Linked DNA regions of Homo sapiens. The protein of the gene in region 1 purifies or fractionates together with the protein of each later gene. This does not show direct contact. Each region holds a gene or a part of one and is shown on either strand. Other genes may lie near its edges.

Region 1 (5,305 bases):
GAAAACTGTGAAACCAAAGGTTAGTTAAGCCATTGATATGATTCCAGGCACTCAGTCATTCCTCTTTCCAGAAAAGTATTACCTATTGTATCAAAAGGACTTTTGAGCCCTCTCTGAAGTGTCATAGCTAAGTTATAAAATCTCTCCCTTCTTAAAAATATTACTGATCACTACAAGGAAAAGGTGCAAAGCATGAAATATTTCTGACCCTGTCCCCTGTGAGGCAAGAGAGAGGAGCTGCACGTTAACATTTGAGTTGCCCTTTGTGACTATCCTAAGGTTAAGCCTGTGTCAACGAGGACTGGCTCAGATTTGTGGCTAAGAGAGGTACTGATGGTAACAGCGAAGACTTATTTGGTGCGTACCCTGCGCCAGGCACTAGGCTGAGGTTCCAGCGTTATCACGTGTACTCCACACAATAACCCCAAGGATGTTTCCAGCCCCAGGAGAGAGCTGGCGGATCAGAGGAGGGGGGTGACTTGCTCAGGAGCGCGCCCTGGTTGGGGTCAGGGCTAGGGCTCTTGCCGGGATCTCTCTGACCCCAGAGCCGGGTGCCGCACAGAAGACAGAGCGCGAGAAAACCCTGGAGCTCTCGGCCGCCGCCGTGGATCCAGGGGAACGGACAGAGACGTCCACTTTCACCGGGTGTAATTCTGAAGACAGGCGCAGAAGCGGTCCCGAGACTGGGATGCGTGTTTGCAGAAGCTGACCCTAGACTGGGATGCGTGTTCTGATAGCTGGGTGAGACGGGCTACAGGAGGAAGAACATTCTTGAGTGAAGATCCTGGCCTTCCTGTCAGAATTTACCATTCCCGTTTCTAGTGTTAAGTGGGTCACGACTTTATTAAACCTTACCTTGCTCGACATAAACATGATCAGTGTTATTTTACGCAAAGGATTGTAATACAATTAATACATTTAAAATTCCATGTCTGTACATATGGAGCTGCCTCGTGTTTTAAGTGCAAAGGATTCCATTTTATGAGTATAGCCTAGTGCATTTAATGAGCCTTCAGTGCAGGGGAAATTTGGTTATTTCTAGTTTTCTGCCATTATAAATGATGCTGCTATATAAATACATGTCTGTACTTGTGTGAAAACTTCTCTGAATATATTCACCAGACGGGAGGTCTGGGTCAGAGGTATTTGCACTTTATAATTTTGGTAGATATTGCCAAATCTGATATGAGTGAAATAAATGAATACTTTTAAAGATATTTTGTAAAAGGAACACTCGTTTTTATCATAAAAATGTGGAGAATATTTGTCTCTCTCACTTATTCTATTTCTAGGAATCCAGCCTAAACAAAGGACCTTAAATTCTGACCAGTGTGTGAGGTGTTCATTGCAGCATTATTTATAAAGTAGCACCTGGGGAGAATGAGGGTGATACAGTGGGATAGGAATGTGCAGTAAGTCATGATTTACTTGTGACACGGAATACTACACAGCAGTGAAAACAATGGAGCTGGGCATGGTGGCTCATGCCTGTAATCCCAGCACTTTGGGAGGCTGTGGCAGGAGGATCACTTGAGCCTAGGCGTTAGAGACCAGCCTAGGCAACATGGCAAGACCCCATCTCTACAAAAAAAGAAATTAGCTGAGTGGTAGCACCTGTGGGACAAGCTACTCGGGAGGCTGAGGCAGGAGGATCACTTGAGCCCAGGACACTGAGGCTGCAGTTAGCTGTGATTGCACCACTGTACTACATCCTGGGCAATAAAGTGAGAGAGACCCTGTCTCTAAAAAATAAAGATGGTTCTAAAGATAACCTCAAGAATGCTTATAATACAGACTTTAAAGAACACAGGTTGACAGGTGCCATGGACAACAATGACCAGGGGCATGCACAAGCATAGAGACACTCGCAGTCACAGGCATGTTTGTGTACCATGAAAAAGAAAAATATAACAAAAGTAAAAGGAAGTTTTCCTTCCTTCCTCTGTCTCCAAATTTCCTCTAATATATTTTTGTTATTTTTTATAGTGAATTTGAAAAATACAGTTTTTGGAGCTGGTCAGATTCTGCTACTTGCTGGCCATGCAACTCTTAGGAAACTCTTTTAAATTTTGTTGAATCTTTGCTTCCTTGTTTCAAAGAGGGGACACCCAATGCCTCAGTTAACTGATGTAAAACTCTCAGCCTGAGGCCTGACTCAAGTAGGTTCGTCCACAGCAAATGCAAATTCCCTGTTCTCTCATCCCAGCTTTAAGGACGGTCACGTGAATAGTGGTATGTATATTACATTAAAGGCACACGCATATGATGAACTGTGCAGATTTTACCCTGGCTGTCTTTTATGAAATCTTTCTAAGTAAAATGAAGTTCTCCATTGCTGGATGGTAAAGTCTGAAGGGGACATGGTAAAATCATACTTGGCCAGGAGGAGCTAAGTATTTATCAATTTCAGAAATCCTGGGCATAGAGAGGCTTCATGTGAGACAGAAAAGCAAGTCTGGGACAAAGAAAATAAATTATTTTATACAATGGAAAGGTAACTCAAGAGTCTTTTCCAAAGGAAATTCTGACTAGAATTGCAGTGGGAGCACACTGGCTCACATCTATAATCCCAGTGCTCTGCAAGGCTGAGGGGGTAGGATCACTTGAGCCCACGAGTTTGAGGCTGGAGTGAGCTGTGATTGATTGCACCACTGCACTCCAGCCTGGGCAACACAGCAAGCCCTCATCTCTTAAAGTTTTGAAAAATATATGGGTGCAAGAAAAAAAGATGAATGAGCAAAATCACTGTCCCACCTCCCATGCAGTCCCAGGCTAGCAGCGGCGTCAAAGCCAACCAGCCTCCTCTGAGCCCAGCTTCTGTAGGGCTGCTGAGAAAATGAAAGTGGGCGGGGCTGGCAGCAGGAACCGCTCACTAGTAATACTGGGCCAGGGTGCCAATCTGTAATCTTTGCTCTCCCAACAAGCTCATTTTCCGCTCTTCCTTCAACACCTCACACATAGCAGGGCAGGTGCCCTGAATCTGATGCAAACTCCTGTTTATTTCCCTCTGAGACGTGCTCTGCCTCCCAGAGCTACAGGTGAGTGGCCGGCCCTGCCTGTGAGGCTTTGAGCTCTGGGGCAGCCATGAGGAAGAGCAGCTGCCTGTGAGGCTTGGAGCTCTGGGGCAGCCATGAGGAAGAGCAGCTGCCTGTGTGCCTGGAGAATCAGGCAGACACTTTTATCACAGGCAGGACATTCAGAATGGACAGCCGCAGAGTCTTTTCCAGGCTGCCCCTGCCTTCTCACAACCTGGTGAGATCACAGAATAGAAACTGATCTCCTTGGCTGGGCATGGAGGCTCATGCCTGTAATCCCAGCACTTGGGGAGGCTGAGACAGGTGGATCACCTGAGGTCAGGAGTTTGAGAGCAGCCTGGCTAACATGGTGAAACCCCATCTCTACTAAAAATACAAAAATTAGGCGTGGTGGCACATGTCTGTAATCCCAGCTGCTCGGGAGGCTGAGGCAGGAGAATCATTTGAACTCAGGAGGTGGAGGCGGAGGCTGCAGTGACCTGAGATCGTGCCACGCACTTCAGCCTGGGCAACAGAGTGAGACTCCATCTCAAAAAAAAAAAAAAAATTAAAAATAAAAAACAACAACAAAAAAACTGATCTCATTTATAAAGGTGGGATTCACAAGGCACCAGGGACAGAAGGACCCTGAATGTTAGACCAGGCCTCCGTCCCTCCTAACCGCAGTATCTGGGAGCTGTAAACATTTCCCAGAGTTCCCCAAACACACACATGCACACAAAAGAGAATGGAAAACTTAGCAGGAGAGACAAACCGCAAAGGATAAAAACGAAAGTGAATACACAAATGGTCCAATTGGAATGAAGAAAAGCGAGGTCAGGCCAGACCGGGTCAGAGGACGTCTCCGAGGTAGCTCAGCCATGCCCACAAGCTCTCCTCCTTATCCTAGGACTGGCCTATGAGTGCCAAGGCTGGAGCCCATTCTCTCCTACGGGCATCTGGCCTGCAAATCTGGAGCTGTGATGAGACCTGTCTGTGAGTCCTGCTGTAAGGGCCAGACTCAGGTGGCCGGGGCCAGACATCTGAGGAACAGGGGACTTGCCGCTGGCTTCTGCTCTAAGCTGGGCAGGGAAGGAGGACGGGGGCCATAGGAGGTGTGAGCTGAGGACCCTCACTCATTAGGGATCACGTTAGACGTAGCCCAGTAATTATAATGAGAATCCTGAATTCAAACCCTGATAGTAAAAGGTCATGCAATGCACTGTGAACAAGGGAGTTGCATTGTGGGACAGGACCCCCCACCCCGGGACAGGACCCTCCTGGAGCTGTCTCTCCATGAGCCAGTGACTCACAGAGGGCGTGAGCTCCACAGAAGATGTGTTCAGTGACGTGGACGCTGTTCATTTGTAGGAATGACATTCGCAGAACACAGATTCTCCTGCTATCTGCACTCAGACAAAACTGTGCCCAAAGGTCCCGGAAGCCAGTCCCATTGAATGCTGGTGGAACACGGGCTAGCCAGCTTTGTCTATGAGCTGCAGAACAGCGTGACACCTGCCCTGTGTCCCAGAACAGGAACAGAACCAGGGCAGGCTCCTGAGGGCACGGAATCATTCTGGGATTTTCTCCTCTTTGAGAAGCAGAGCAGAGAGGGGTGGAGTGGAGTGCAGGCTCCAGTCTCGGCCGCTGCCTTCACTCATGGCCTTGGCCGTGAGCCCTTAGGCAAGTCACTGACCCTCCCTGAGCCTCAGTTTTCCCATCCATAGTCTGGGCACAATTAACAACCAGCACACAGGGTTATTGTAAGGATTAAATGGTGCCTGGCAGGGACGTGGCCACCTGTCCACAGCCTGCTCACTCTTGTCCCAGCCTGTCACCTCCTGCCCTGGCAAGGCTGCCGTCTGCAGCTCCCCTCCTGACGCCTCCCTGAAAGAAGGAACCCGTCTTTCATCTGCTCGATTCCTTCTTTTCCTCCCCTTTACTCCTGCAGTGGCTTCAATTCTTTGGCTGTTTTCCTTATCCTGACACTGGAGCTGCTCCAACTACATTTTCTCTGTAGCTTTTCAATTCACTTCCTTTGGATAATTGTGAGACCGCCAGCTCACAGGATGCACAGAAAACACACAGGATGTTGTGCGTTTTTTTTTCTTACTGCCATGAAAGGTGACTTCGTCATCCACCTACATTCCTGTCTTTGCATCCATCCTCACCCAGCACGCACCCAGCGACCCATCCGTCCACTCGCTTACCCAACATTTACTGAGCACTCCCTATGTGCCAGGCACAGTGCTGGGTGCAGGGTGGCAACAGGCTGGGGGTGCAGTTCCCTC
Region 2 (4,638 bases), on another chromosome or scaffold:
AGCACCGTAGGATAATACTATTTAAAAGCAGTGGAGCTCTTGCCATTTTCCAGGCACAACTTAAATTTTTCATTTATTATATCATTTAGTTCTCAAATGTTATTACTATCTTCATTTTGCAGAAGAGGAAACTGAAAGATTACAGCGGTCATTCTTAATCAGCTATACATTAGAATCACCTGGTGGGCTTATACTAGTTACTGATCCCTGGACCTAATCCCAGATTTATTAAATCAGAAACACTATTGTGGTATCAGCATTGGTATTTTTTTTTAAAAAAGCATCTCAGGAGATTCTAATATGCAGCCAGGGTTGAGAATCAATGGGCCAGATAAACAGGTAGCAAGAAGCTTGGACTTCAATCTCTAAAGGTCCAGTCTTAACTGCTCTTAACTATCATGCTATTTTGCTTTAAACTCCGATTTACATTTTTGTCACCATGATTAAGGTTAGAAAAATACTAGTCCACAGAAAGAATCTTTTACTTTGTCTAGCTCTTGAGGAAAGAATGACCTGAGTGCTATCATAGTGATGGCTTAGCTATGCTTACCTAGCTGTATTTTAAGAAGATTATACTGGTCTTTGTGCTGCTGGATCTGTGATACTTGCTGTGTGACTGCCGTCTGGAGCTGTTCATTTTGACATTTTAATGTAGAAACCTGCTGCCTTAATTCCTCAAGTTGGAGATCCTGTGAAACAAAACATAATTCATGTGTTTTAAAGTCATACTCGTTAGCATTAAGAAGGTGAACACATTTTAAAAATTAGAGGTCATTTTGGGACAGTATGCTAAAGTGCTTAACACTTCCAAAATCGTTCAGTAATTAAGCAACTTGGTGTGTTAATATATCCATCAAGGCCAATTAACATGCAGCAGAACTACAAGATTTCAAAGAAGGCTCCATTAATAAACATCATGGCATAGCCTGCAATTATAGTGGGAAATAAAATGAAAAAACTCCATTTTATGGTCATAAAACCATTTAAAAATTTACATCAAACTATTTAAGAAATTTAGTATATGTATGTATACATATGCTTCTATATTATTTTTAATATTAAAAGCCAATGAGAAAATAAATATAGGAAATTGAAAAAAGAGCTTCCAACTTTTACCATCATAATAAAACTATAGTTGGAATTTGATGTATTTTTTTTCTTTTTTTTTTTTTTGAGACGGAGTTTCGCTCTTATCGCCCAGGCTGGAGTGCAGTGGTGCAATCCAGCTCACTGCAACCTCTGCCTCCAAGGTTCAAGCAATTCTCCTGCGTCAGCCTCCTGAGTAGCTGGGATTACAGGCGCCCGCTGCCATGCCCAGCTAATGTTTTTGTATTTTTAGTAGAGATGGGGTTTCACCATGTTGGCCAGGCTGGTCTCAAACTCCTGACCTCAGGTGATCCACCGGTCTCAGCCTCCCAAAGTGCTGGGATTACAGGCGTGAGCCACCGTGCCCGGCCAGAATTTTATGTATTTCTTTATTTTCTTCTAATTTTTTCCCAATCCATGGTTTAAAATTTGTCACAATAGGTATATATATATAATTATGTAGCCTTTAATTTACTTAACATTCTATCATAATTTCCCCATATTGCTACATAGTTTTCAAACCATAATTTTTAATCCTATCTAATTAAGTAGATGCAATACAATTTATATTCAATGTTTTTGATGCTAAGGTTGCTTTCCATTTTTTTTCTTTTCTTTCTTTCTTTTTTTCTTGGGTTTTTTTTTTTTTGAGACAGAGTTTCGCTCTTGTTGCCCAGGCTGGAGTGCAATGGTGCGATCTCGGCTCACTGTAACCTCCGCCTCCCAGGTTGTTCAAGCGATTCTCCTACCTCATCCTCCTGAGTAGCTGGGATTATAGGCATGTGCCACCATCCCCAGCTAATTTTTTGTATTTTTAGTAGAGACAGGGTTTCTCCATGTTGGTCAGATTGGTCTCGAACTCCCGACCTCAGGTAATCTGCCCACCTTGGCCTCCCAAAGTGCTGGGATTACAGGCATGAGGCACCGTGCTCAGCCACTGCACTCCAGCCTGGGCAACAAGAGCGAAACTGTCTCAAAAAAAAAAAAAAAAAAAAAAAAAGAAAAGAAAAAGAAAAATGGAAAGCAACCTCAGCATCAAAAACACTGAATATAAATTGTATTGCATCTACTTAATATTGCTTTCCATTTTTCAAAGTGACAAATTTCATTACATTATATATTTTAGTCCATATAATTGTTTTCCTGAATTTTGGAGAATTCCCTTAGGATGAATTATCAAATGTCATTCAAAGGATATAAACATTTTATAGTTCTAGATGCTTGTGGACTAATGCCAAATAGCATTTTAAATGGTAAGAATATTTAAAATGAACATTTCTAAGGAAGTCATTAGAGTAATTGTGTCAATCACTCTTTTCTTTTGCCAAATCAACTGTATTTGCAGCCCCAAGTATAGACTCTATATCACATTACAACTATTTGTTTTTTTCACTGTTCCAAAGATATTATTACATTTTAGCAACTGGAAATGGCTCCATCTTTGTACCCAGATATAGATGAAAAATCCTAATAACCATAGGTAGTTTGATGATTCAAATTTTACCATTCTAAGATTATAATTTATTGATTGATTTACTTTTAAACTGAAAAGCTTAGAATGAATGCTAAATATACCACAATATTTTCATTCTTTCTTAAAATTTTAATCTCAGTAGGCTGGGCGCGCTGGCTTATGCCTATAATCCCAGCATTTCGGAAGGCTGAGGCAGGGAAGGGAAGGGATCACCCGAGGTCAGGAGATCAACACCAGCCAACATGGTGAAACCTCATCTCTACTAAAAATATAAAAATTAGGCAGCGTGGTGGCACACGCCTATAATCCCAGCTACTTGCGAGGCTGAGGCAAGAGAATTGCTTGAACCTGGGAGGCGGAGGTTGCAGTGAGCCGAGACTGCGCCACTGCACTCCAGCCTGGGAAACAAGAGCAAGACTCTGTCTAAACAAAAAACAAACTAATCTCAGTAATGTAGATTGTGAGGAAGAAAATAAGATATAAACAGTTGTCAATTTAAAGGGTTCTATCTATGCTTTTACTTGCCACACCTGCCATAAACTGTGCACAATTAGTAGACAGGTGTGGAGAGCAGTAGAGGGAAGGGGATGAATCTGTCCCACAGGGTCTGCCACTATTGTATTTTTTTATGACACTGGAATTTTAACAACATTAATAACCTCATTTTTCAGCACTTTCTAGAATTCCAATCAAGGTAAATATCATAAGAAATTAAATGAGAGTAAAAGTCAAGAAAACATTTTGAAGGAATATAATGAAGGTTTAGGGTACTCAACACAATGCAAGTAATGAAAGTTCACTGGTATCCTGGAAAGAAAATGTCAACTGATGATTCCGCAATTGTAGTTTCATCTTTATCCACTCATCATTATCTAATAAATCAGCTGCATGGTGCTTAGCACATATTAAGCACTCTGTTTGTTGAATACTCAGATGCTTTGAAAAATGATGGGTTTTGCTTTCTATATCCTCTTTCATTTGAAATGTCAGAAAAAAAGGCTCCCTTAAAGCAGAAAGTGCCTATTGGTAATCAGAGGGTATATACAGTTCATTAGTACTTACCTGCTCTCGAATCATATTTTTGTAGTGAGTCACAATATTGTCATGCTGTTCTAATGTTTTTTTCACCTCTTCTTCTTTTTTATCTTCTTCACTGGACTTATAAATAGCCTTAGTTATAACACCTATAAAAGGAAGCTTATTTAAAATTTGTTTTAAATGTTTTAAATACTATTTTACTACTAAGACTTAGTAAAAACATATAACCTAACTCCATGATAGGTAAGAAATAATCTTTTCAATCCTACTGAAAGCCAAATGTCCTTCAATGGGCTACAGATCAAGAGCTAGGAAGAAAATATACCTTTAGAGTTACCATATAACCTGTATGCATCCAGAATATACATGTACAATATAAATATAATTACTTTCCATCAAATATCAATATAAATCTTCAGTCTTACCTTCAAGTTCTTTTACCAGCTTCGTAAACTCATGATCAAATATCATGTATTCTGGACTGGGAAAGTTTGGCTGGGGTTTCTGAGATGCTCTGGAATACAACTCATGTTTGCTAATAAATCCTAGTTTCTCTATGAAATTCTCTTTGCCAATCCTCTTCTCAATCAGTTGTTTTAGCTTCTCTCTACGGAGATAAGCATATTGAGATGCTTTAAAAAAAATAAAATCAAAACAAAACATAAAAGCTTGGTCTACATAATGCTTTGGCAAAAAAAAAAAAAAAGCATCATTATCTCTTGATGCCATTAGAAAACCATCTTCCCCTTACTTACTTCATGTAGCTCTCAAGTGAGTTATCATTGAAATAAATCGAAATGCCCAACAAAAGGGCACATAAGCCTTGGACCAACTGCTCTTCTTCTCCAAGATTTTCTGCAATTTGTCCTGTAAGCTGAAATCTTTGTTAAGGAGGCTAAGGATTGAAAATATCTAGTACATTTTGCAATTTGAATTTGACATACATTAATACTTCACATAAGAGTTCCCATAAGAAATTCCATATATAGGCTAGGTGTGGTGGCTCATGCCTGTAATCTCAGCACTTTGGGAGGCCAAGG

What was found. The genes of interacting proteins can lie anywhere in the genome.
Region 2: the proteins of DLGAP2 (region 1) and USO1 purify together in Homo sapiens (affinity purification with mass spectrometry, with the first as the bait; one large-scale study listed by BioGRID). This does not show direct contact.

What each region holds. Positions count from the first base shown.
Region 1 is NC_000008.11:1,670,506-1,675,810, reverse strand, and holds part of DLGAP2 (disks large-associated protein 2), read right to left. Parts: intron 1-5,305.
Region 2 is NC_000004.12:75,800,185-75,804,822, reverse strand, and holds part of USO1 (general vesicular transport factor p115), read right to left. Parts: intron 4,473-4,638; coding exon 4,354-4,472; intron 4,206-4,353; coding exon 4,024-4,205; intron 3,745-4,023; coding exon 3,623-3,744; intron 690-3,622; coding exon 551-689; intron 1-550. UniProt on the Homo sapiens protein: General vesicular transport factor required for intercisternal transport in the Golgi stack; it is required for transcytotic fusion and/or subsequent binding of the vesicles to the target membrane.